3 separate regions of the Homo sapiens genome follow, and all the other regions are linked to region 2. Evidence: fine-mapped expression QTL. A gene starts in region 2. Each other region holds a variant in brackets. All regions are shown on one strand. Distances are between the middles of the regions. Region 1 overlaps TCF12 (transcription factor 12). Region 2 holds the start of LINC00926 (long intergenic non-protein coding RNA 926). Region 3 has its middle 25 kb from the start of CGNL1.

Region 1 (8,000 bases), 33 kb before region 2:
CCAGGAAGATGTTAAGCTTATGTCCTTTACCTCTGCAACATCTTAGAAGTTAGTTTCTAAAATACATAGTTTCTCATCCTTGTTCATTTGTTAAATAGTGCCTGAAAGTGAGCATTAAATTGGTCATGGGGGTCAGACTTGTTCTTCTAAATACAAATGCTGTTAAAAAGCACAAGGATGTGGATATATTCTTTTCAGCTCTAAATAGTATACTTTCCTACATCTTCAAACCTCCATCATAACCCTGTAACTGCTAAGGATATTCACCAGCTAGAAAGCTTTTTATTGTCTTAGCTGTAATTCATATATGAGTCTCGTCTTTTATTTTATCTTTCCTTTGCCTCTTTGTTAGGTGGCTTGCAAAGTCAGTCTGGAACTGTTGTTACAACAGAAATCAAGACTGAAAACAAAGAAAAGGATGAAAACCTTCATGAACCTCCTTCATCAGATGACATGAAGTCAGATGATGAATCCTCCCAAAAAGATATCAAGGTTTCATCTAGAGGCAGAACAAGGTATTTGTTAGCATCCAGGTTTTAAATTTTATTCATTTTCCATAGGTAAACATACTTGAGAAGCTGGGTGTCATGCATTTATTAACTGTCAGCTATGTTCTAGATATTGTGTTAGGATTTTTGTGTATGTTGTCTCATTTAATCACCACATCATCTCTATAAAAGAGAAGTATATGAAGGTTTGATTTCAAAATTATGTTTTCCTTCATACTATACCATTTGAGGGACTATATATAAAATATAATTATATCTCTTCACTCAAGTTGCTTAGTCTGTTAGATAAGTAGAAGGTAAAATAGCTAAAAGAAGTTAAATCATGTGGTACGGACATTTAGATAGATTTGATCAATAAATATTTGAATATGGTCAGGTGTCACTTAACAATGGTATATATTCTAAGAAATGCATTGCTAGGCAATTTCATCATTGTGCAAACATACAGTATACTTTCACAAACCTAGCCTGTTGTTCCTAGGCTGTATACCTGTATACCATGTTACTGAACTGAGTGCTGTAGGCAATTGTAACACAATGGTAAGAATTTGTGTATCTAAACACCTAAAAGGCACAGTAAAAATAAAAGATAAAAAATGGTACCCGTATAGGCCACTTATCATGAATAGAGCTTGCAGGACTCGAAATTGCTCTGGGTGATTCAATGAGCAGGTGGTGAGTGAATGTGAAGGCCTAGGACATTTCTGTACACTATTGTAGACTTTACAGACACTGTACATTTAGGCTATATTTCATTTATTAAAAAATATTTTTCTTCAATAGTAAATTAACCTTAGCTTACTGTATGTCATTTACTTTATAAACTTAAATTATTTTTAACTTTCTGACTCTTGTAATAATAGCTTAAAACACAAACACATTATATAGCTATACAAAAATATATTTTCTTTAAGTTCTTTTGTAAGCTTTTTTTTTTTTTTTTTTTTTTTGAGGTGGAGTCTTACTCTCTCGCCCAGGCTGGAATGCAGTGGCATCATCTCGGCTCACTGCAACCTCCGCCTCCCAGGTTCAAGTGATTCTCCTGCCTCAGCCTCCCAAGTAGCTGGGATTACAGGCACCCCCCACCACTCCAGGCTAATTTTTGTAGTTTTAGTGGAGACGGGGTTTCACCATGTTGGCCAGGCAGGTCTGGAACTCCTGACCTCAAGTGATCTGCCCACCTCATCCTCCCAAAATGCTGGGATTACAGGCATGAGCCACCGCACCCGGCCTTTGTAAGCTTTTTCCTATTTTTAAAATTTTGTGGTTTTTTGTTTGTTTGTTTACTTTTCAAACTTTTTTGTTAAAAACTAAGACACAAACACACATGTTAGCCTAGGCCTACACAAGGTCAAGATCATTAATATCACTGTCTTCCACCTCCACATCTTGTCCCACTGAATGTCTTCACAGGCAGTAACATGCAGGAAGCTGTCTCTCCTAAGGTAACAAAGCCTTCTTCTGGAATACCTCCTAAAGGACCTGCCTTGAGGTCTTGTCGCCCAGGCTGGGGTGCAGTGGCACAATCTTGGCTCATTGCAACCTCTGCCTCCCGGGTTCAAGCAGTTCTCTTGCCTCAGCCTCCAGAGTAGCTGGGACTACAGGTGCCTGCCACCATGCCCGGCGAATTTTTGTATTGTTAGTAGAGATGGGATTTCGCCATGTTGGCCAGGCTGGTCTCGAACTCCTGACCTCCAGTGATCTGCCCACCTCGGCCTTCCAAAGTGCTGGGATTACAAGCGTGAGCCACCACACCCGGCCAACTTTTTTTTTTAAGTTAGAAGTATACTCTAATGATAAATAGTATAGTATAGTATAGTATAGTATAGTATAGTATAGTATAGTATAGTATAGTATAGTATAGTATAAATACATAAACCAATAACATAATTAGTTATTATTATTATCAAGTACAGCAGGTCCTCAAAGAACATCATTTTGTGAAATGATGAGAAAAAAAATTGATTCCTAGCTAGAGCCTCTTTGTTTGTGGAGTTTGCACATTCTTCCCATGTCTCCTCATGTGGGTTTTCTCTAAGTACTCCGGTTTCTTCCTTCACCCCAAAAATGTGCGTATTAGGTTGAGTAATGTGTCTGAATTGTCCCAGTATGAGAGAGTGTGGGTGTATGTGTGAGTGTGCCCTGCAATGAAATGGCATCCCGTCCAGGATTGTTTCTACCTTGCTCCCTGAGCTGCTGGGATAGGCTGCAGCCTCCCCCGACCCTGAACTGGAATAATTGGGTAAATAATAATCTTACTTATTTTTATGAGTCTTTCTTAAATGTATGCATAGTTCACATTTATTTCATTGTTTAATATTAGAAGTGTATTTTGGTTTTTATTTAGAAGTTTGATGATATTTTGTCACCAGAAATGTACTGTAGGGACTTAACTCTTATTTATATCAATTAACCTATGATAAAACTGGTTTTATTATGTGTCATTTTCCTTAAAGTTGCAGTTTCCAAGAACTGATCAATGACATTGAGGACTTACTGTAGTGTGTACTGTACTTAATTGCATGCTTTTATACAACTGGCAGCACAGTAGGTTTGTTTATAACAAACAAAGAGTTAACGTGACTAATGTGTTGTGCTGCAGCCTTACCACAGCTACATTACTATATAATAGACATTTTTTAGCTCCAGTATAATAAGACCACTGTCATGTATGTAGTCCCTCATTGACTGAAATGTTATGGGCTCATAACTGTATATTAATATAAGGGCTAAATATATGGTAAGACTCTGATTTAAACAAGCAAATTATGGCCCATGGGCCTACCCAGCTCACTGCCTATTTTTGTTTTTGTTTTT[ATTATTTATTTAT/A]TTATTTATTTATTTATTTATTTATTTATTTAAAGACAGGGTCTCGCTGTCACCCAGGCTGGAATGCCATGGGGTGATCTTGGCTCACTGCAGCCTCAGCCTCCCAAGTAGCTGGGATTACAGGCAGATGCCACCATGCCTGGCTAATTTTTGTATTTTTAATAGAGACAAGGTTTCACCATGTTTTCCAGGCTGGTTTTAAACTCCTGGCCTCAAGTGATCTGCTCACCTCATCCTCCCAAAGTGCTGGGATTACAGGCGTGAGCCACTGCGCCTGGCTGCTGCCTATTTTTATGTTTTATTAGAACATCACCATGCCACATTCATTTATCCATTGTCTGTGGTTGTTTTCATACTGCATTGCCAGACTAGAATAGTTGCCACAGAGACTATATGGCCCATCAGAGCTGAAAATATTTACCATCTGGTCCTTCAGAAAAAATGTTTCTTTTTAACAAACAATTAAATAGTAATTTGAGAAAAGTATGAAAAAGGAAATATTCTAGGCAGAATGATGTTGTCGTGGAGTTTTCTAGAAAATGGACTTGACTTTGCTTTGAAGTATGAATATAGACACATAGTACATTAGTTTCAAGTGATTTCTGGATTTTTCCTTCAAATTTTTCTTCCAGTTCTACATTAAAATTAGATGAGTTAGGCCAGGCACAGTGGCTCATGCCTGTAATCCCAGCACTTTGGGTGGCTAAGGCAGGAGGATCTCTTGAGGCCAGAAGTTCAAGACCAGCCTGGGCTACATAGCTAGATTCTGTCTCTACAAAAAATTAGCGGGGCATGGTGGCAAACACCCGTAGTCCCAGCTACTTGGGAGGGTAAGGCAGGAAGATTGCTTGAGTTCAGAAGTTTGAGGCTATAGTGAGCCATGATCATGCCACTGCATTCTAGCCTGGCTAACAGAGAGATGCTGTCTCTAAAAAAAGACTTTTTTCTAATGAAAATTTAAAAGTTAGATCATTTAGTATATTTGTGGTACACCCTATTTCTTGGCATACATATTCATTTATCAATGATATGTGTATATATCTTATACAGATTTAAAACATTGTTCTTTGTGTTGAATTATGGTGCAATGAGGATGGTAGATAAAACTAAAAGAAGCAGAATGTTCCTTTCTGTCATTCACAACTTAAAAGGTGTCCTTTTGCTCTTTTGACATTCTCACTGTTTTCAACACCTAAACATTTATCTTGGGAAAAAGGAAATCTTAAGATCTTAATATTATTACTTTAATATGTATTGTACTCAACTATCAGGGGCATAAGGAAGGAAAAAACTGTGTCAAGGAATTCAGAGACCACTCTTTGGAGGCATCTTAACTCTTACATAGTTTTTATTCAAATAGAATTTTAAGGGAAACAATTTACATCTTTCCTCCATATTCATCTTCTTATAGATCAGGAATCAGCAAACTTTCTCTGTAAAGTCCCAAATAGTGACTATTATTAGGCTTTACTGGACATACAGTCTCTGTCACAGCTACTTACCACTGCCATTAGAGGACAAAAGTAGCCAAAGTCAAATGGGTATCGCTGTTCCAATAAAATTTTACTTACAAAAAAGGATGACCAGCTCATAGATCAGTTTGCTGACCCATATTATAGGTCATCAGAAATTAGGAGGCAGTGTAATAGGTTAGTAATAGTCCATAATAATGAATAGGTTAATAACATGACCTTTGGACAAAATAAGGGTTTGAATTGTGGTTCCATTACATACTTGCCGAGTGACTTTGGGCAAGTCTTTGAGCTCAGTTTCTTCTTCTCTAAAAGGAGACTTTCTGTTACAGGATTCTTGTAGGAATAACCTGAAAATGATGCATGTAAAACCCTTTGCACACGGTCTAGCACACAGTAAGCACTCAATAAAGATACTATATCTACTGTTACAGTGGTAGTGTTATGGTGGTAATTTTAAGTGTATGGTGTAGGCTTGCTTCCATGGAGCACTGAGCTGACATCTCATCATCATACTGCCACCAGTTAGCTCTGTGATCCTAGGTCTTGAAGTGGTTCTCAACCCTGCTGCCCAGACCCTGGAACATTTTAGAAATACAGGTGCCTGGGCCCCAACCCAAACTCACTAAATTAGTGAGTCTAGCATCTCTGGTAGTGAGACCTGGAAAGCTGTATTTTTCAAGTGCTCTTGGAGATTCTAATGAGTGGCTATCTGTGGACACCACTGGGCTCGATGATCTTTAAAGGACTTTTTGAAGTCAAAGAACCAGTGATTTTCTTTTGTCAAAAGAATGCATTTATATGATTCTTAATGATTAGCAGGTTAAATATTGCATACTTTTTAGGGACAGAGTCTCTGTTTGTCACCCAGGCTGGAGTGCAGTGGACAATAACCTCAAGCTGCTGGACTCAGGCAATTCTCCCATGCCCGCCTCAGCTTCCCAAACCACTTAGGTTACAAGCACGAGCCACCATGCCTGGCCTGTGTACTTGTTCTTTTATTAGAATACTCAGGGTATTAAAGAAGAGGTAAAAATGTCTAATATTTTTGTACATTATTTCAAGGTTCTGAGAAGCTGTGGTCAGTAATTTATATCTGAATCATAAATAGAACTTTCTATAAGCTGTTACAGAGCATCTCCCTCATATGTTTTTTTTTCTGATTATGTAGTCTATTTTCATTACAGAAATGTAGAAAATACAGAAAAGTATGCACAAAAATCACAAGAAACACCACTATTCAGAATTAACCACTGTTTACTTCTTTTTTTTTTTTCCTGAGAAGTTCTAATTTGATTTCACTGTGGTCTGAGAGACGTTTTGTTGTGATTTGTGTTATTTTACATTTGCTGAGGAGTGTTTTGCTTCCAATTATGTGGTCAATTTTAGAATAATAAGTGCAGTGTGGTGCTGAGAAGAGTGTATATTCTGTTGATTTGGGGTGGAGAGTTCTGTAGATGACTGTTAAGTCCGCTTGGTCCAGAGCTGAGTTCAAGTCCTGGATATCCTTGTTAATTTTCTGTCTCGTTGATCTGTCTAATATTGACAGTGGGGTGTTAAAGTCTCCCATTATTATTGTATGGGAGTCTAAGTCTTTTTGTAGGTCTGTAAGAACTTGCTTTATGAATCTGGGTGCTCGTGTATTGGGTGTGTATATATTTGGGATAGTTAGGTCTTCTTGTTGCATTGATCCCTTTACCATTATGTAATGGCCTTCTTTGTCTCTTTTGATCTTTGTTGGTTGAAAGTCTGTTTTATCAGAGACCAGGATTGCAACCGCACAACCCCTGCTTTTTTTTTTTTTTTTTTTTTTTTTTTTTTTGGCTTTCCATTTGTTTGGTAGATCTTCCTCCATCCCTTTATTTTGAGCCTATGTGTATCTTTGCGCATGAAGTGGGTCTCCTGAATACAGCACACTGATGGGTCTTCACTCTTTATCCAATTTGTCAGTCTCTGTCTTTTAATTGGGGCACTTAGCTCATTTACATTTAAGGTTAATATTGTTATGTGTGAAATTGATCCTGTCATTATGATGCTACTGGTTATTTCACCCATTAATTGATGCAGTTTCTTCATAGCATCGATGGTCTTTACAATTTGGCATGTTTTTGCAGTGGCTGGTACCGGTTGTTGCTTACCATGTTTAGCGCTTCCTTCATGAGCTCTTGTAAGGCAGGCCTAGTGGTGACGAAATCTCTCAGCATTTGCTTGTCTGTAAAGGATTTTATTTCTCCTTCATTTATGAAACTTAGTTTGGCTGGATATGAAATTCTGGGTTGAAAATTCTTTTCTTTAAGAATGTTGAAATATTGGCCCCGACTCTCTTCTGGCTTGTAGGGTTTCTGCAGAGAGATCCACTGTTAGTCTGATGGGCTCCCCTTTGTGGGTAATCCAACCTTTATTTCTGGCAGCCCTTAACATTTTTTCCTTCATTTCAACCTTGGTGAATCTGACAGTTATGTGTCTTGGAGTTGCTCATCTTGAGGAGTATCTTTGTGGTGTTCTCTGTATTTCCTGAATTTGAATGTTGACCTGCCTTGCTAGGTTGGGGAAGTTCTCCTGGATAATATCCTGAAGAGTGTTTTCTAACTTGGTTCCATTCTCCCCATCACTTTCAGGTACACCAATCAAATGTAGATTTGGTCTTTTAATGTAGTCCCATATTTCTTGGAGGCTTTGTTCATTTGTTTTCACTCTTTTTTCTCTAAGCTTGTCTTCTCGCATTATTTCATTAATTTGATCTTCAATCACTGATATCCTTTCCTCTGCTTGATCGCATCAGCTATTGAAGCTTGTGTATGCTTCACGAAGTTGTCGTATTGTGGTTTTCAGCTCCATCAGGTCATTTAAGGTCTTCTCTATGCTGGATATTCTATTTAGCCATTCGTCTAACCTTTTTCCAAGGTTTTTTACTTCCTCGCAGTGGGTTAGAACATGCTTCTTTAGCTTGGAGAACAGCTTTCTTATTACCGACCTCCTGAAGCCTACTTCTGTCAACTCATCAAACTCATTCTCCATCCAGTTTTGTTCCCTTGTTGATGAGGAGTTGTGTTCCTTTGGAGGAGAAGAGGCGTTCTGGCTTTTGGTATTTTCAGCCTTTCTGCTCTGGTTTCTCCCCAGCTTTGTGGTTTTATCTACCTTTGGTCTTTGATGTTGGTGACCTACGAATGGGATTTTGGTGTGGATGTCC
Region 2 (9,151 bases):
AATCACCTGGACTCCAGAGGCAGAGGTTGCAGTGAACCTGGTCCACAGAGCAAGACTGCACTCCAGCCTGGCCTACAGAGTGAGACTCAGTCTCAAAAAATAAAAAACAACAACAAAAAAAAAACTTTTAAATCTATTTGATACAACATAGGCTGGGACTTCCAAAATTTTAAAAACCATCCTAAGTTCCTTCAGTCCTAGAGTTCTTTTTCAGTTATCACTGTTTTTGGTTCTCTGGCTTCTTGATAGTCTCCTTGGAAGAAAAACAACTGCATCTTTCCCTCTAAAGGCAAGGGCCATCTCTATATCTCTGAAGATCTAACCTTCTGCCACAGTTCGAATATGTTGGAAACGTAATCCCCCATGCAACAGTGTTGAGGGGGGTTGCCTAATAAGAGGTCATGAGGGCTCTCCTCCCAGGCTGTTTTGCCCTGCCGCCTTCCACCACGGATGATGTAGCACAAGGGCCCTCAACAGATGCCAGCCCCTCCGTCTTGCACTTTCCAGCCTCTAGAATTATAAGAAATAAATTTCTGTTATTCTTTTTTAATTACTCAGTCTCAGGTATTCTGTCATAGCATCAGAATACACACTAAGATACCTGCCTAGGCCATGAGGACCCCAAGACACAGCACAAATTTTGTACAAACTCTAACCAGACCACCTTTTTCCTACTCCCAGGGTGAGGTCCTTCCTTCCCCTGTCCCTTGCAGCCCTATGGGCTTTTTTGCTTTCTCTCATTCTCCGGGCCTTCTGCAGCTCTATTTCCTGCAAGATTGCATCTTTTCTCCTGGATATTTGGTCGTCGCTGGGCTGAGGTGGCAGCCTAGTGTTGGGAGCAGGCTTCTGGCTGGCCTCTGATCAGTAAGCCAGAGGGGTCACCTTGTCCTGAAATACAACCCAGCCATTGGCCATGTTTTCCACCATCTTATGAGTATTCCCAGTGACCAACCTCAGCAGTTCAAGACAAGTTGGGTTACACAACAAGGCAGCACAATAATGAAGCTCCCACCCCTGGCTTGGGCCTGGGCGTTAGAAAGCCCTGCCTGCGGGGGGCCCTCTCACATGCAGAAGGCAATGGGTAGTAGCTTCACCAGACGATCCTCTGCCTACCTGCTCCAGGTCTCCCCCTGGGGCCATCCCACCTCTTCCTCATTAAAGCCTGTGCTGAAAGGAGCGGGGTTGTTTTTCAAATTCTTTCAGCAGTGAGTTATTGATCAACACTGATAGTGCGAGCAGCTTGATCTCACCCTGAACTGGCAGAGATTAATTAGCTTGATTCCCAAGCATAATTCCTAATTAGGCACAGGAAGAAAGGAAAGAAAACACAAAGGAACTATTCTTCTCCAGGAACCACCGACCTTCTGTCCAGGGGTGGAGGAGGAAGAAACAGGTAAGCATGTCCCAGCACCAGAGTGCTTCCTGCCCATTCCAAAGCTGGGCAGCCAGCCCGTCAGCACAAACAACACCGAGGACGGTGCCAGTGCCATCCTGCAAGGGTTTCAGAAGAAAATGTGCATTTAATTTGTTTGCTTTACTCTCTGCCTAATGATGGGCAGGGAAGGCACAATTAAGCAGGAGGCTTTGAAGTACCTGCTCTAGGCTTGCTTAGCCACCAGAGGCTGAGGATGCAAGCAGGGGAGAGTTCAGCTCCAATAGGCTGGGGAAGAAAGGTTGGATGGGGAGGGTGTAGTGGCCCTGAGACTTGAGCAGAAATAGTGAAAGGAACCACTTCCTGCAGCTGAGAGGCAGGAGCCATCATGTTCTGTTGTGGGCATTTTCTAGAATGTTCCAGCCAGGACCAGCAGCTCAAATGGCTCTTCCCTGGTGGTGGGTAGGGCAATAGGAGATAGGAGGGACCTTCAATGTGGCAACTGTGAGGTTTGGCCAATCAACTTACCCATGCTGAGCTTCGGTTTCTCTTCAGTGAAATGGGGATAATTAATGATCGTATCAGCTTACATGACGGTTGTGAGAATTAACTGAAGAATTCAGAGATGCATGGCACATAGGAGGCACTTCCTAACCCACCTAAAGAAAGCAAACCCACAGGGCAGCAAATCAGAAATGGATGAGGGCTGACCTCCTCTTTATTCAGTAGCACATGTCTAATAGACCCGACTGTGTCTCGCACATGCTGCCCCTGAGGAAGACTTATTATAGGGAGCTACAAACAGTGTCACCTGGGAAAGACAGTGAACTCAGTTATAGAACAAGAACACCTGCCCGGGCTGACTGGGGGCCAGGATGCAGGGAAGGCTGCCTGGAGGAAGTGACATACCCCTGAGTCTCAATTGGCCAGGGAAACAACTGAGCAATGATTTGTGAAAATGAGTTCAGTAGAGGTTAATAAAAATTGGGAGTCCTGGCCAGTGGCTCACGCCTGTAATCCCAGCACTTCGGGAGCCCAAGGCAGGCGGATCACAAGGTCAGGAGTTCGAGACCAGCCTGATCAACATGATGAAACCCTGTCTCTACTAAAAATACAAAAATTAGCCAGGCATGGTGGTGCCTGCCTGTAATCCCAGCTACTCAGGAGGCTGAGGCAGGAGAATCGCTTGAACCCAGGAGGCGGAGGTTGCAGTGAGCTGAGATCATGCCGCTGCACTCCAGCCTGGGCAACAGAGCAAGACTCCGTCTAAAAAAAAAAAAAAAAAGGGAATCCCTGCTGTCTGCAGTAGGCCAATCAAGTGTCCAAGAATTGTGAGAATGTGCTTCCCCATCACCACCACCAGCCCACACCCACACCAAAATGTGTCACCCTTCAATCCCTTCAAGTCTGTCTGCTCAGCATCCTGATCCAAACAAGCCACTTTAAAAAGTGCAGTTATGAAACAATTCGAACACTGACTGGACTACTGTTTATATTTTTAGATGTGATACTGTGGTTATGTTTCTCTAAAAGTCCTTGTCTGTTAGAGATACACACTGAAGTGTTTACAGAGAGAATGATACAATCGCTGTCTGGAATCCGCTTCAATACCATCCATTGTTGGAGGGTGGGTAGTGGGGTTAGGGGGTTTTGAGGAAACAAGATTGGCCCGGTCTATCAGCATTGATGCTGGGTGAGATAGGTAAATGGGGGTTCATTATACACTTTACTTTTGAAAATGAAGTTTTTCGTAATAAAAAGTTGAAAGAAAGAAGGAAGGGAGATGGGAAGGCAGGGAAAGGAGAAAGGGAAGGAGAGAAGGAAAAGATTCTGCTCAAATGTCCCTTTGGAAACCTTCCTTGACCCCCGCGTTGGTGTGGGGCCGGGGGAATGGGGAGGCTGTTTTCTGCTCAGCCAGAGCAACAAGGCCCATGAGGAGACAGGAGGGATGTCTGGGGAGCAGTCCCAAGCCACAGAGTCCTTCTGGGGACCAGCCACACCATGAAGAGAGAGCAGAACAGGGAGCATAGCACAGACCTATGACATAGCACTGTGCCATGACATCAGCTGGCAAAGGCCCATGGGACCAGGAGGGAGGCATTAGAAGGGCGAACACTAGCAGCTGTTGAGTAGGAAGAAATGTGAGCCGACTTCTCTACCTAAGGAAGCGGTGGCAAGGCCGTGGAGGTTCGGGATGGGGACGGGTTCCAGGATTAGAGTGCTTTTTTTTTTCTTTCTTTCTTTTGAAGGAGGAGAGGCTATGGGAGCCTCAGGTACCGAGCATCTGGTGTCTGGAGAGATGCAGCTACTCAAGGCAGTTTCTGATCTGGAACCAGGAAGTCTCTGTTTCCCCACCAGCCAGCAAACGTTCTGGACTTGGTGCTGGGCCTGCCACCACCAAAGGTGGAGATGCCCCACATACCTGCGTCAGGCATGACAGGTCACCCCTGAGTCCTTGGGTCTCCCCAAGGCTTCTCCAGGGCTTCCCAACAGGGCTGAGATTCAAGAAAACGCTCAAGGTCCACCCCACTGCTCCGACCCTCTCACCAGAAGAAAAGGGCTGTGTCCCAAGGGCAGCCTGCTTGGGAAAAGAATATGTGGGGTGACTTGTCCAGATCTGCCCAGGGAGGCTGGGAATGGAGAGAGAAAGGAATCTGCCCACCAGTTGGGGGAAAAGTGGATTTCGCAACAACCTTGATGATATTAAATGCTTGGGGGGCCTGGGAAGACCAAATGTTTAATATTTGGAGAAGAGGCTGTCTAAACAGAGTAATTAGGAGGCTCCTTTGTAGTGATATGAAAGAGATGAATTGGGTATATTTGACATCAAAGACAGGAGATCCAGTGGGGAATGAGACCCACGGCCGGGCGTGGGCAGCGCTGGAGGACAGGCTCTCCCAGTGTGCTGCGGGGGAGGGCAGCCCCTGCAGTGTGCGTGTTGAGTGCTGGGAAACCCCCAAGTAACACTTCCCCCCTCATTTAACACACTTCCTAAAACCTCTCCTCCCCAAAAGCCACTTTGCAAAAGCAGCGATTACCACCAACCACGAGAAACACAGGAGCCTGCCTTCCACTGTTTACCACTGGGCAGGAAGTCGTTTATGGACCAGTCTCTTGCCCAGGCTAAACTCAGAAGTGGACACTGAGGGCCGGTTGTGGGTGCCACCAGGCAAGCTAGGGCATCGGAGTTCAGCAGAGCTGGGTGGGAATTCTGCTTCTCCCTCCACTACCTGGGTAACCCTGGGCAAGTCACTTAGCCTCTCCGAGCATAAACTGGTTTGCTTGTAATATGCAAATAATAAGGGGTGGGGGAAATTTTTTTTTTTTTTTTTGAGACAGAGTCTCGCTCTGTCACCCAGGCTGGAGTGCAGTGGCGTGATCTCGGCTCATTGCAACCTCCGCCTCCTGGGTTCAAGCAATTCTCCTGCCTCAGCCTCCTGAGTAGCTGGGATTACAGGCGCCCGCCACCACTCCCAGCTAATTTTTGTATTTTTAGTAGGGACGAGGTTTCACCATGTTGGTCAGGCTGGTCTCAAACTCCTGACCTCGTGATCTGCCCTCCTTGGCCTTCCAAAGTGCTGGGATTACAGGCGTGATGGAGATGATACTCCCTAAATCACAAGGGTGTGGTGTGAAGATGAAATGGCTGCACGTGACAGAGGAGTTGGAGAACAGGAAGCAAGTGGATTACTTGGATGAACTGTGATGGGCCCAAGAAGAACTAAGCCAATCACTCCAGGGGGCGTTTTCCCAGGATCCAGGCAGAGAGCTGATTCCAGCATCCACGTTGTATCCCCCTCCCGCTGTGGCCGGGGTCTCCAAGAGCCGGGCACCCACTGCAGAGCTTCCAAGCCCAGGCCCATTTGAACACAGGAGGACTTTTGAGGTTCATTTAACCCCAAAATCAGTGATTCTACATCTCAAGCTCATATTTTGAAGTGTTTACGGGTAAGTCATATGATACTGGTCATTTATTTTTTAAATATTCTAGCCAAAAGTACATGGTAGACAAAGTGAGAATGTCAGAATGTTGATAATTAGTGAAACTAGACGAAGATACATGAAAGTTTAATTTTGATTCTCACCTACTTTCATGTGCATTAGGAAACTTTCATAATAAGTTAAAGTAACAAAATAGGCCAGACTCGGCTGCTCATGCCTGCAATCCCAGCACTTTGGGCGGCTAAGGCAGGCGGATTACTTGAGGTCACGAGTTTGAAACCAGCCTGGCCAACGTGGTGAAACCCCATCTCCCCTAGAAAATAAAACAAAAAAAAAAATTGTAGCTGGGCATGGTGGCAGGCCCCTGTAATCCCACCTACTCAGGAGGGTGAGGGAGGAGAATCGCTTGAGCCTCAGAGGCAGAGGTTGCAGTGAGCCAAGATTGCGCCATTGCACTCCAGCCTGGGTGAGAGAGCGAGACTCCATCTCTGAATAAATAAAGTAACAAAATACATTTCAGTCTCGAGCTCCAGTTCCCTGCCAGGAAGAGCTGAAGCTGAGCTCTGGCACCCCCTGCTTCTTCTCCCTCATCCCTAAAACATGTGGGGTACTGGGTGCCAAAGGAGATCTGAAGATGGCCACCACTCAGACCAGCAGTAGAGGCCAAGAAGGTGGTGAGAAATTTTAAGGTATTGTAGCATATGCTCTCCAGGGTGAGGACACAGGATGCTGGGACCTAAGGAGGGAGAAGTTAACCCAGAGAGGGCCCAAGTCAGGGAGGACCTGACTGTGGTGACAGAGCCAGTCATGCTAATAATAGGAGCAGTGGTTTTGCAATCACAAATATTGGTCTGGGGGACTGCGGGCCCAATGTGGTGGGAGTTTTAGAGCAGGGACCCCTCCACTGTACGTGGATTCTTATACTTGCTAAGTTGCACTGAATTCTCAATCAACCCATTTGGAGGCTCTCACCAAGACAGGAGTCCCTTTGAATTGGTAGGATGTTAAAAGCTTCCTCCAGCCATTGACCCTGGGTCCCATTGGTAGAAATCAGATAATAAATCAGATTTTCCAGGTAATCCTCAGTTTAATGTCCATTCCCTCATTCAATCAATTATTCAATTACAAATCATTTTTAATATGATTTTATGGTTCAGGAATTCAGGCAGGGCTCAGATGGGCAGTTCTTCTGCCCCACATGGCATTGGCTGATAACAGGCTACCCCAAGGAAATCACAGTGTAATGGGAGATGGGAAATAGGTTAACACAAAGTTACTATACTACAAGAAAAATCTTCAAATCTTCAATCTTCATTCTTCATGGGTGTGAGTCTTCTCTGGTGGAGAAGAGAGTTCTTTGCTAAATTATATTCCTGTGTTAGCCAGCCAAGCACACACGGAGTACAGCTGTCCCTTGCTATTCATGGCAGATTGATCCCAGACACTGCCACCCCCAGCCCTGTGAACACCAAAACCCATGGATGCTCAAGTCCTTGATATAAAATGGTATGGTATTTGCACATAACCTACACACATCTTCCCATATACTTTAAATCATCACTAGATTACTTATAATACCTAATGCAATGTAAATGCTATGTAAGTAGTTGCTACGCTGTATTGCTTAGGGAATAATGACAAGAAAAAAAGGCTGTACAACTTCAGTACAAATGCTATCATTCATTTTTTTATCTGAATATTATGATCCATGAATACAGAGGGCTGGCTGTAAAAAGAATGTACAGTTTGGTACTTTACTCCTAGTTTAAGTCATCTCTTTCGGCCCATACAGGTTGCCTGGGGCAGGGCGGTGGTGAGTGTGTTGAGTCGGCCCTATACCCTGTTCCACAATGCCTGGTGTCCTTGGCACGTAGCTTGCAGGGCTGCTTCCATGGATGGCTGCCTCATCCCCCACCCCTCCTTCATGGCACCCTCTTTTCTCCAACTCCTTTTCCTCTGCTGAGTCCTACCTTTTCTTGCCAGACCAGGGATTTGCCAATTATTCTGGATGGGCACAGGGAAGGGGCCCTCAGATCCTGCAGAGGGAGCATCTGAAAGACAATGAGACCCTGTACACAACCAAGCTGAGCCTCCTGTAAGCACATCCTCTGGGTGTCACTATGCGAAAAGACTCTTTGTCTGTTTACATTGCACAACGAATTGTCCCTCTGATTGTCCTAGCGTTGGTGCATGCATGGATCCAGGAAGAGCAGGTATTTGGACCCAACGAGACAGGTTCATCTTGGCAGTTTGTCTCCTGTGGTTGCTTTGTGCCTGCCCCGTATCTATCCACCCAACTTCTGGCAGCAATCCCTCCAGGACCCACCTCTGTCTTCATGGTTTGTGTGTTCTGATCCTGCTCCTTGGCCCCAGAATACACCCTCCACATCTAAGCTATGCAGTGCCTCATCCCCACAGCTGCAGCGATTGGTTTAGGAATGGGAAAATAATCCAATCAAAGTAAGATTGTCTAATATCTGATCCCGCTTACCCCGGAGCCAGAAGTCCCACCTTTCCAGGCTCCTCCATGTTCCTTTCTGGAGCAATGAGGAGGAAGGTTCATTCCCTTCTCAGGGAACTTGCTGCGGTGTCCCAGTCCTGACTGTCCCCTCTCTACCCCTGCCTGTGGCTCTCCCGTCTCCTGGCATTCTAACCTGCCACTGAATTCTTCCCACGCCAAACGCAGGTTAGGAACCTAAGCTCGGATGAAATGCTGGCTTAGACCTCATTGCTACTGAGAAGCAGAAACCACACTTTTTAGTTGGTAGAGGTGGATGTGGATTGGGGCCATAAAGTTTCCTCAATCATTGAATAAGGATTTCATTATTTGGACTAACTAAATACATTAGATTATTTATACTAACTAAATAAATTAGATTTATTTTTCGAAGTTTAAAATCATTTTCAATAGTGACGAAAAAGGCTGTAGATGAGATGGGAGAATCTTTCGACGCCAAATTCTTCCCATCTCCTGCCTAGTATGTATCACTACACCTTGCCCAGAGAGACTGTAGGGGTGCTCAGCAAAAACCATGGCTGGTTGATTCCCTGGAAAAAGGGGTGCTGTCCCAGGGAGCTCTGTGCCCTTCCTGCCAACACTGGGGTCTAGAGGAGGCAAGTTCCCCTCTGAAGGTGAGTATGATTCACTCATTAAAACTAAGAAATTTACATTGGTATGTTACTGTTAACTAACCTACAGACTTTTTTTAGATTTCACCGTTCTTTACACTCTCGTCCTTTCCAATTTCCGGGATCCAATGCAGGATACCAGGTTGCATTTTTGGATGTGTCCAGTCTGTGATCATTTCTCAATCTTTCCTCATTTTCTCATGACTTTTGACATTTATTTATTTATTTATTGTGTGAGACTGAGTCTCACTCTGTTGCCTAGGCTGGAGTGCAGTGGCCCCATCCTGGCTCACTACAATCTCCACCTCCCGGGTTCAAATGATTCTCCTGCCTCAGCCTCCCAAGCAGCTGGGATTACAGGCGCACACCACCACGCCTGGCTAATTTGTATTTTTAGTAGAGATGGGGTTTCACCATGTTAGCCAGGCTGGTCTCAAACTCCTGACTTCAGGTGATCTGCCTGCCTCGGCCTCCCAAAGTGCTAGGATTACAGGCGCAGGCCACCACGCCCAGCCTGACTTCTGACATTAGAGTACAGGGAGGGATTCTGTAGAATGTCCCTCAATTTGGGTGTGTCTGGTGTTTTGCCATGAGACTGGGGTTATGCTTCTGGGTGCCACACAGAGGTGAAATGTCCTTCTCATCACATTATTCGAGAGGTACATGGTACCAATGGGACTTATCGCTGCTGATGTTAACCTTGATCTC
Region 3 (10,827 bases), 52 kb after region 2:
GTGTTGCCCAGGCTCGTTTTGAACTCCTGAGCTCAGGCAATCCGCCCGCCTCAGCCTTCCAAAGTGCTAGGATTACAGGCGTGAGCCACCACGTCCGGCTGGTTCTCCCTCCTTCTACAGGCTCCTACTCTTCTCCCTGGCCACAGCTAACCGAACCAAGGGACCCCGATCAAGCAGAACCCCTCAAAGGTCTTTTGGGGCCTGGTGCGGAAACCCGTGCTTACTGCAGAATCTGGAATTGAGACATGGAGGCTGCACCATTGGCTGAGGGCGGCTGGTGCTGGGGGGCAAGGGCCAGGCCAAGTCACAGTCACTTGTCAGTCAGAATCTGGGGTGGGGGGCAGGGGCTGGGGGAAAACTGAGGAAGCTAGGCAGCAGAGGAAAGAGAGTGAGGGGGACAAACAAGGTAGAGAGAGACCCTGCTCCTGAGGACGGCCTGGTTTCCATCAGGTCCTCACTTGTGAGACCCCCTGGGCGACTTCACAGCAAACCTTCCCTTGTACCTGAGCTGCTGGAGAGGCCTCTGTTCCTGCCAGCGGAAACTCCAGGCCATGTCTCCTGGACTGACCTCGAGCTCCTCAAGGGCAGGGATTGTGCCTTACTCAGCTTTGATTCCCTGCAGCACCAACAGGGTAGGGACCGTGCTTGTATGAGTGTGTTTGTGTGTGTGTGTGTGTGAGTGTGAAAGTGTGTGTGAGAGGTGACAGTGTGTGTGTAAGTTTTCCCTCTCTAGTAGCAGGTGGAGGCCAGAGCTACCTGCCTTGAAAATACTGTGTATTTGAGCTATACTCTTGTGCGTGCGCAGCTTGAGCTTGGGTAGGCAATGATTCAAAAACCATGGGTACCACCAGGAGGACTGTAATCAAAATGACAACAATAACAAGTGTTGGCACAGATGTGGAGAAATCGGGACCCACTTACAGTGCTGGTAGGAATAGAAAATGGGGCAGCCGCTGTGGAATGCAGCCTGACACTTCCTCAAAACATTAAGCATAGAGCTGCCATATGAACCAGAAGTTCCACGCCAGGGGCTGTGCCCGAGAGAAATGATGACACACATCCACACAAGCACTTGTACACAAAAGTTCATAGCAGTGTTATTCACAGTAGCCAGAAGCAGAAACAACCCAAATGACCATTGCTGATGGATGGATAAACCAACTGTGGTCAATCCACACAATTGACTATTATTTGGCAATAAAAACAGATGAGGTACTGATTCATGCTACCACATCAGTGAATCTTGAAGACACTATACTAAATGAAAGGAGCCAGCCACGAAAGACCACAAATGATTCCTTTTATATGAAAATTTCAGAATAGGAAAATCTATAGAGACAGAAAGTAGATTAGTGGTTGCCAGGGCCTGGGAAGAGGGGAGGTTAAGGCATGATGCCAACAGAGTTTCTTTTGAGGGTGATGAAAATGTTCTGGAGTTAGATGGTAATGATGGTTGTACAACCTTGTGAATATACTTTGAAAACCACTGAACTGTATACTTTACAATGGTGAATTTTATAGTGTATGCATTACATTTTACCTTTAAACACAAAAAACCAAGGGCAGCTCCTATGAGTTAAGGATCTAGGCAGTAAGCAGCAACCACCACTAACATGGTAAACAGAGACACGGGAACATGCTGTGACTCTTGTTGAGGAACAGACCCACCTAGGGAGACTGGCCTAAAAAGTGAACCTGACTGTAGTCAGGCCCCTAGCTCCAGTACAAATGTACAGGAAGGACAGAGGCACAGCAATGGGCTAAATGACACCATGGGGATGCAGTCCAAACTGCAGGGAATTCCATTCTACAAACCACCCAGTTACTTTAACAGATTCCAAAGTAAAAGAAAACCAAAAAAACCAAGGGGAAAACCTATGGATTCAAAGAGACTTCAGAGATACACCAACCAATTGCTGTATGTGGACCTTCTTTGATCTGGAGTCCAATAATCCGTTAAAAAAATAATTTTGGCTTTTGACAAATTTGGAGATTTGAACACTAGCTGGATATTTGATAATACTGAAACATTATTGTTAATTTATTTTTATTGTGTTTTCTTTAAAAAAACCACAGTCCTTATCTTTTAGAATTACTGAAATAAAGAAAAAAATGATCTGATGCTTGGAATTGATTTCCAAATAATCATGATGAAGGGAAATGGGTGGAGAAATAGAAAAAAATGACATTTGCTGTAAGTAGACAATTGAAGCTGGGTCACAGGTATATGGATTTTTTGTATGTTCTATCTACTTTTGTATATGTTTGAAATTTTCCATAGCTCCATATTTACTTCTTATTGGAAAATAAACAAGAAGAGAAGAATTGGAAGAGAGAAATCATGGGCAAAGTAGTAGTCTGAGATGGGGTGTCAGGCCTAATGTCCATCAGCTATTGCCCCACAGGCCTGCATTGCTAATCTGCCATCTGCCTCACGGCACCCTCCCCAGCCATCCTGTTGGCCCCTCCCATGAGGGAGTGCTCTCCATGGCTGTGCCCTCTTGGGCCTGACCTCACAACTGTTTCTGGAGGCACAAATTTGTCTCCTGTGGCTCAAGACACGAAGAATGGATGATCACATATGGTCACCAAACTTTGTGGAACAGTGATTCCAAACTATGGTCCTTCCGACAGCAGAGCAACACAAGAAGCAAACAGCTGAGGTGTTTGAGAAAGGTCAGGGAAAAAAAGCCTTCTTTTTTTTTTTTTTTTTTTTTTTTTTGAGACAGAGTCTCGCTCTATTGGCAGGCTGGAGTGCAGTGGCGCGATCTTGGCTCACTATAACCTCTGCCTGCTGGATTCAAGCAATTCTTCTGCCTCAGCCTCCCTAGTAGCTGGGACTACAGGTGCACACCACCACGCCCAGCTAATTTTTGTATTTTTAGTAGAGATAGGGTTTCACCATGTTGGCCAGGATGGTCTCGATCTCCTGACCTTGTGATCTGCCCGCCTCGGCCTCCCAAAGTGCTGGGATTACAAGGGTGAGCCACTGCGCCTGGCCGAAAAAGCCTTCTTGACTGAGAGCATGCTGCGGGTTAGGGAAGGGAGAGGTTACCTCTGGATCAGAGGTTGGAGAAGAATATAATTAAAGGAGTTTAAACTGAACTGGAGTGACACATAAATCATGCGAAATATATGTGAATGTGTTTCTTAAGTAAAATTAAAAAGTCCTCCAGGGGGATGTGCTTCTCCCATGCTCAAAGCTGACAAATCTTGGAGATGCCTGGTGCCCCAACCAAAGGTCATTTCCCAGCCTTTCTCTGAGAACAGAGAACACATTTCTCACGGAAGCAACATTATAAGTGGTGGTTGGGTTCCCAAGATCCCCATCAAAAGTTTATTTGCCCAGTTTAAAGGCTGCGCATTTGCACCTGAAGTAGGTAGGGCCCTTGCAAAGGCTAGCAGTTGGATAACATTAAGTTACATGTCAAGCCAGTCAAGATATGTGCCCTGCAATCCTCAGGAGTTGCTTGTGGAATTCAGAGGAGGAAGGGAGCATCTTCCAGTTAGGTGGCTAGGGAAGCAGTGGGATTTGAGCTGGGCTTGGAGTGGTGGATACATTTCAGTGACAGTAACAACCCCTCTGTCCTTCTTACTCAACTTTGCTAAGAAAAATTCTGAACTTTACAAATTATCCTTGAATCAGGCCCAGTGAGTTATGCGGAAATGTTAGAGCAAGCCCAAACCAGCTGGGACAGACGTAAATGTGTTCTGGATGTGCTGACTTGATCATAAGGTCCTCAGGTCTTCAGGATCCTGTAAGATGACCATCACCACACCACACTTCAGATTCCAGGGCCTTGCCTCCCTAGCCTGACATCTCACCTCCACCTCTGTCAAAATTTCAGAATCAGGTTGGGTCTTATCTTTGTTCTTATTTTTGATGTCCCATATAAACCCTTCTTCAACTGATCTTTTCCACCAGGCCCATAACTTCTTTCTTTGTTTTTTTTTTTTTTTTTTTAGACGGAGTCTCGCTCTATCACCAGGATGGAGTGCAGTGGCACGATCTTGGCTCACTGCAACCTCCACCTTCCGGGTTCAAGCAATTCTCCTGCCTCAGCCTCCTGAGTAGCTGGGACTACAGGAACCAGCCACCACACCCAGCCAATTTTTTGTATTTTAGTAGATACAGGGTTTCACCATGTTGGCCAGGATGGTCTCAATATCTTGACCTCATGATCCACCCACCTTGGCCTCCCAAAGTGCTGGGATTACAGGCGTGAGCCACCGTGCCCAGCCTCTTTCTAAGCCAGCATCCAGAACACAGATACAAGACTCATTAGGTAGGTTCAAAAAACAGGTCTCCAATGGCTTCCTTATTTCAGGAAGCACTGAATTAATTATTTCCACTCAGGAAAAGACTATGTTGGAGTCCATTGCTGCTTCTCGATCCCAAGTGAACTCCAGGAAGAAGCAAATGAAAAGCAATCATAGGCCGGGTGCGGTGGCTCGTACCTGTAATCACAGCACTTTGGGAGGCCAAGGCAGATGGATCACCTGATGTCAGGAGTTCAAGACCAGCCTGGCCAACATGGAGAAATCCCATCTCTACTAAAAATACAAAAATTAGCCGGGTATGGTGGCAAGTGCCTGTAATTCCAGCTACTTGGGAGACTGAGGCGAGAGAATCACTTGAACCCGGGAGGCGGATGTTATAGTGAGCTGAGATCGTGCCACTGCACTCCAGCCTGGGAGACAAGAGTGAAACTCTGTCTCAATAAAAAAAAAAGAAAGAAAAGAAAGAAAATAAAAGCATCGATAGTGTATATAGATCAAAGGAGGAAGGGACATTTTCCTTAGAATAAAACTTTAATAACGAAAACAATAAACTCCCTCCTTTCCACTCGTAGAATAGTCAAGCACTCATTTCTCATTTGCTTCTCAGCCATCAGCTGTCCTAATCTGTTATCTATTACGCTGTGTAACGAAACTCGTCCCAATCTAGTAGCTGAAAGCAACAACCATTTATTATGGCACATGTCTACATGGTGGCTGGGTGGTTTTGGTGATTTGGGCCCAGGCTGGCTGAATCCAGGTGGGCTTGTTCAGTGGTCCCTGGCAGTTGGGTTGGGGGCTGGCCTGTCTAGCATGGCCTCAGGTAGGAAGAGTTGGCTCTGCTCCACAGACTGACCCGTGCCTGTTCTCTTCCTCTGGCAGGTTAGTCCAGGCTTGTTCTCTCAGTGGAGACAGGGGTCCTACGAGAAGAGCAGAAGCAGTAAAGGCCTCATGAGGCCTGGACTTAAAGGACACATTGCCAGTTCCGCTATATTCTGTTGGCCAAAGCAGGCCAGCCAAGATACAAGCGGGGGGAGAAAATATGCTCTACCTTTTAATGAGGCATTGCAAACTCACATTGCCAAGGGTGTGGATACAGAAGGTCACTAGTTGTGGCCATGAATGCCATCCATCTATCAGACCTGCCAACGTAGTTTTTCTTTTAGGGGCGGACTTAGTCCGATTTCAGACATTAGTAAAACTGATT[C/T]GGATTCCATTTCCAAATTCCTAATTCCAAGAGAACTGGAAAAGCAGAGCGTGCCAACCTCTTATAATCCTTCTTAATGTGACAAATGTTTCTACAGCGTCCACTGAGCCAGGCTCAGTAGGTCCCTGGGACATATATGAAACAACAGTTCTCCTGCCCTCCAGGTGCTCAGCACAGCAGGAGAATCCCGGCTGGGAACAGAGAGCAAAGCGACCACATAGCTCTAGTGGGAATCCTGGGGAAGTGGTATGTGGTCTTGAATAGTGACTTAGAGTTTTCCAGAAAGAGAAGGAAGGGGAGTTCATTCTAGAGGCCTGGAGGATGTAAAGATGGTTGTGTTTTCATGAAACCGAGCTGTGGACACAAAGGGCAAGGCCAAGGTTGCAAGGGGCCTTGCCCGACTCTCTGTGGAGAGAGGATTTTATTGTGAAGGGTCCACGAAGTCACCGCAGGGCTTCAGCTGGATGAGTGTGCTCTGCTTGGCCTGTTGGAAAGATTGCTGGGGCAGCAGGGAGGTGAAGAGGAAGCTAAAGATAGGGTGACCAGTTGGGAGACTATTTCCAGTCCAAATACATCCTCTTGGGTTTGAGTTTCTGTGACCGTCCTCCTGCTGGCTGGAACTGGGAGGTCCTCTGGGGTCTCTAAACGCTCTCAGTTGCTTGCCTAGAGTTATGCAAGCGGGCGTGGGGTCGGGGCAGGACCAGGAAGCTTTGCGCTTTCTGCTCTTGGCTGATTTCATAACAGGTTAGCTTTTAAACTTCTGGCTCATTCCAGACACTATGCCTCTGGCCCTGGGAGAGAACTTGGTCTCCCAGACCGCGCATAACATTTCCACTTTCCGGCAAACACAGTCTGTGCGTGATCAGGTGAGGCTGGCGCACACAAATCCTTGATGTCTAGACCGCCTTTCTCCAGCTGCTGTGTTTACTGCAGAAAGGTTCCATCCTGGGATGATCGCCTGGGGGGAGTTTTCTTCTTGCGACACCTAGTTCAGCTCTGCTGAGCTTTTGGATTCCCAGCCTTTCTCCCACCACAACCCGGTGGTCATGAAGTCTCACAGGAAGTGTGGTAGGCACAATAATGGTCCCCAAGGATGTCTAGGCCCCCATCCCTGCAACCTGTAAGTGTGTTGTTACACGGCCAAGGGGATTGAATTAACAGATGGAATGAAGGTTGCTAATCAGCTGACTTTAATACAGGGAAATGAGCCTGGATTATCCAGGTGGGGCCAATATCATCATCAAGGTCCTTAATAGTGGAAGAGGAGGCAGCAGAGGAGCGCAGAGTGTTGCTTTGTGAGAAGGACCCGCCCAGCGTTGCTGGCCTTTAAGATGGAGGAAGGGGGCCGTGTGGTAGGAGTGTGGGGGCCTCAGGAGGGAAGGAAATTGGCTCTCCCAGGAGCTTCCAGAAAGGAATGCACCCCTGCTGACACTTTGATTTTGGCCCCAGTGAGCCTCGTGTTGGACTCCTGGACTACGGAGCTGTAAGATAATAAATGTGTGCTGTTTTAAGCCAGTAGCTTTGTGGTAATTGGTTACAGCAGGCATGGGAAAGCAGTGCAGGGTGTGTGAGCTGAACCCTTGAAGACGGGGTTCTCCACTACGTCCCCAGTGTGGAGCACAAGCTGGCTCTATGCCCGGTGCTCGGAAGCATTTTCAGAATGAACAGGACTGACTGAGATGAAGCCGCAGACATCTGCTCTCTCCAGGCCCCTATCTGGCTGTGTGACCATAGGTGGGTCCCTTCACTTTCAGTGACTATGTTCCCATGTCTCTTAAGGCAGTTGATGACCTCAAGGGTGGGTGACTTTTGAAGTGACTCTCAGATGTGTTACCACTGGAGCCACCGCCAGATCTCCTGACTCTCCTCTCTCTGACTGGTCTCATTCTTAGTCTAATACCATCATTCTCCAATGCTAAGGTCATTAATTAGCACCCCAGGCCCTCACTGACTCTGCTCTCACCCTGTCTCTGGGGCTCCCTGCCTACAGGTTCACTGCGGAGGTCATGGTAGACGTTGCTGCCCAGAACCTCCAACCGTAGGAAACCTCTCCTCCTTATTCTCAGCCATGAAGTGTGGGAGCAAAACTGCTACACAGTTTTGCTCAGGGTCAGACGCTGGGACATCCCCAGGGCCTGTAATGCTGGTCTCACCAGAGCTTTGACTGTGAATGCTGCTTTTCCTCATAGCAGTGTGTGGCCCCTAAGGTCCCCTATTCAATGACCAGGGACAATCATCAAATCAATGCAAAGAGAAAATGAAGCCTTGTGTTTCTATCTAACGGGTGAGCTACACTGGAAGTATAAGAAGTACTTATGGGGAAATCTGCTTTCCTGACTCTTACTTCTGTTTCCAGAGGGTGATATAATGTGTGTAAATGCAGATTCAGCTTCGAGGAAACTTTCGTCTAATAATGAACTGAACCACATTATGGCATGCTATCTCCAAGGTATGATAGTATCTGTTATACTCATGGGGTCCAAATTTTCTTTAGCTTAGAGGTTATTCTACTTTAGAGCAGGAGTTCTCTATTTTGGCCACCCACTAAGAATCACTCGAGGGGAGTATTTAAAAATCCAAGCCAGGCTGCACTCTAGAGCCACAGAATCACTGGGCTGAAACAGTTCCCCAGGTGACGCTGATGTGCAGCGCGGGTTGAGAACCACTCCACTGCCTTAGCTAACACTGGCTACTCTTGCCTTTGCCTTTGCTATTTACAAAAACAATTATTTTTTAGTATCTAAAGGCCAACATCAATAAACCCTTACTTGTTATACTAGAAGATGCTCTGTCCTCATTGACCTGAGTCCCATCTTAGTGGGGCTTATTATAATGACCCAGGCACGTGAGTCTCATGCAAACCAGTGGGGCAGGCTCTTGGGAGCAGTGGCTTCTGCATTATGCCTGGAATGCAGGAATACATGGGGATCAGTCCGACTGACAAATGCAACTCACCCAAAGTGACTATGAATGACTGCAAGGGCATCTGGGTACAGCAGTGGGACTGTAGTTCAGGTCAGGGATCTGGTCTCTGGTGTTGGCCCTGGGCAGGGAGGGAGCTCTAACAGGAACCGAGGCACCCAGTGTGGTACCTGCAGTTTCCCTGACCCCCACTGCAATCCTTCACCCCCGGGCTCCCCTTGGTTTCCCTGCCTCACCCACAGTCATTGGCCTCAGCTGGTAAAGGGCAGCTTGAGCCAGTGCGTCCTCGGAGCGTTAGTCCCAGCCAGTTTTTGCTGACTCCTCTCCCTTCCCAGCTGCCATGGCAAGTGGGTGCCCAGTCCCACAGCAGCCTCTCTTTCCTAAGTAAAATCCCACGCCCCGTGGCTAACTGTTCACAACCTGAAGGAAGAAATGTTCTACTTTCAAAGGAAAAACAGCCCTCCTTCCATGTAGCTCGCCAGCTGCCCACCGCTAGCCAGGTGTCGCTTGCAATCCATGGACACCGTTCCCGTAGCAACCCCAGGTGACTGTCACAGCTGCCCCTGACACAAACTGCTTTAGCAAAGGGGTGTCAAAAAATATTTTAAAAACAAGTTTTAAACACAATTTTTAGGGAGAAATCAAGAGGGTTCTCAACTGAGGTAATTGACCGACTTGGTGGGGGTTCAGTCCATGAATGTAGCTTCACTCTTGTGGCTATTAATGGCAGGGAGGTGGGGGGACAGTTGGTATAAAGGCAATGAGACTACATATCAAGATGGAAGGGGGCATCCTAGGCTTGGCATGGTATTTGGAAACCTTGACTAGCCTTTTATGCCCAATGCTGTTTGGAAATCTTGCTGGGAATCACAGAAGCTATAGATGCTTAATGGTGTCAGCACTGATATGCGCCACCATCAGCTTGAATTACATATTAACCACCCATCTGCATTTAATCCCTATACCTGGCCATCTTCTGATGAGACGAGCTATTTCCTCTCTCTCCTCTCTTGTACTCTCCAGTGGATAAGTGAGTTTCTCTCCATGCCTTCTCTGGAGTGGGCTGTTTCGCCCACTGGAGGGGGATTCTCAAGGTCTCCACCACTCCTTGGAAAAATGGGGTGAGGACTCCAGGGCTGGGAAAGGGAAAGTGTAAGATGATCCTGAACCAGCTTATGGTGCCTGGAAGTAAGGAAATGCTAGAAAAATGGTGAGAACATGTCAGAAGATCACAGGAGCCAGCTTGAAAGGGCTCAAAACAGCCAAACCTAGGGAATCTGAGCAATAAGAGAAATAATAACAGTGGATTGTGACCTGTAGAGTACAATGGATGTATTCTGCTAAGTGAGAGAAGCCAGACCCCAAAGTCTACATACTCAAATCCACTTATATGACATTCTGGAAAAGGCAAAACTATAAGGACAAAAACCAGATCAGTGGTTGCCAAAAATAGGAGGTGTGGGGGGGTTGATTAAGCTGTATGAGGGATTTTGGGGGCTGATGCAGCTGTTCTGTTGCATGACTGTGGTGTAGATACATGACTCTACATTGTCAAAACTCATAGAACTGCAAACTACAGAGAGTGAATTTTACTGAATGTAAATTTTAAAAAATTAAGATGTTTGGGAGCCCCAAATGGAACCCAATTACAAATAAACCCAACCAGGCTGGGCATGGTGGCTCACACAGGTAATCCTAGCACTTTGGGAGGCCGAGGTGGGCAGATTGCCTGAGCCCAGGAGTTTGAGACCAGCCTGGGGAACATAGCAAAATCCCGTCTCTACAAAAAATACAAAATTAGCCAGGCATGGTGGCGCATGCCTGCAGTCCTAGCTACTCAGGGACTGAGGCGAGAGGATCACTTAAGCCTAGGAGATTGAGGCTGCAATGAGCTGAGATCATGCCACTACATTCCATACATTCCAGCCTCAATGACAGAGTGAGTCCCTGTCTCTTAGAAATAAAAAAAAACAAAAGAACCCAACCATAATACAGATGAATAACATAACCACACTGAAGGGGGTAGGGAAGAAAAGAACCAACCTGAGTACCCAGGGAAAATAGGGTTTTGACTTGATACACAAATACTGTATGGTTAATACACTTCTCATGGGCGGGGGGTGGAGGTTAGGAATTCTGCAACTACTTTCTGTGTATACTAAAGCTGAAAAAATAGGTACAGCTGACCCTTCAACAACACAAGCTTAAACTTCAAGGGTGCACTTATCCAAGGATTGTCTTTCACTTCTGCCACCCTCGAGGTAGCAAGACCAACCCCTCTTCTTTCTCCTCCTCAGCCTACTCAGTGTAAAGACGATGAGGATGAAGACCTTTAGGATGACCACCTTCTACTTAATGAACAGTAAATATATTTTCTCTTTTTTATGATTTTCTTAAGAACATTTCATTTTCTCTAACTG

Evidence for each region.
Region 1: its variant is fine-mapped to the expression of LINC00926 in monocytes after R848 (Quach 2016, PIP 0.95).
Region 3: its variant is fine-mapped to the expression of LINC00926 in putamen (GTEx, PIP 0.96).

What each region holds. Positions count from the first base shown.
Region 1 is chr15:57,262,760-57,270,759 of GRCh38, forward strand. TCF12 (transcription factor 12) reads left to right here. Exons shown (of 21, transcript NM_207037.2): 18 at 353-515. Among named protein-coding and RNA genes, the nearest start is that of SNORD13D, 12 kb to the right of the region's middle. The variant ATTATTTATTTAT/A (reference allele first, on the strand shown) is at 3,327.
Region 2 is chr15:57,295,605-57,304,755 of GRCh38, forward strand. It overlaps LINC00926 (long intergenic non-protein coding RNA 926), which reads left to right and starts at 4,761. Exons shown (of 3, transcript NR_024433.1): 1 at 4,761-5,320. RefSeq lists enhancers at 2,771-2,820, 3,303-3,422.
Region 3 is chr15:57,346,528-57,357,354 of GRCh38, forward strand. No RefSeq gene overlaps it. Among named protein-coding and RNA genes, the nearest start is that of CGNL1, 25 kb to the right of the region's middle. RefSeq lists an enhancer at 8,964-9,685. The variant C/T (reference allele first, on the strand shown) is at 5,486.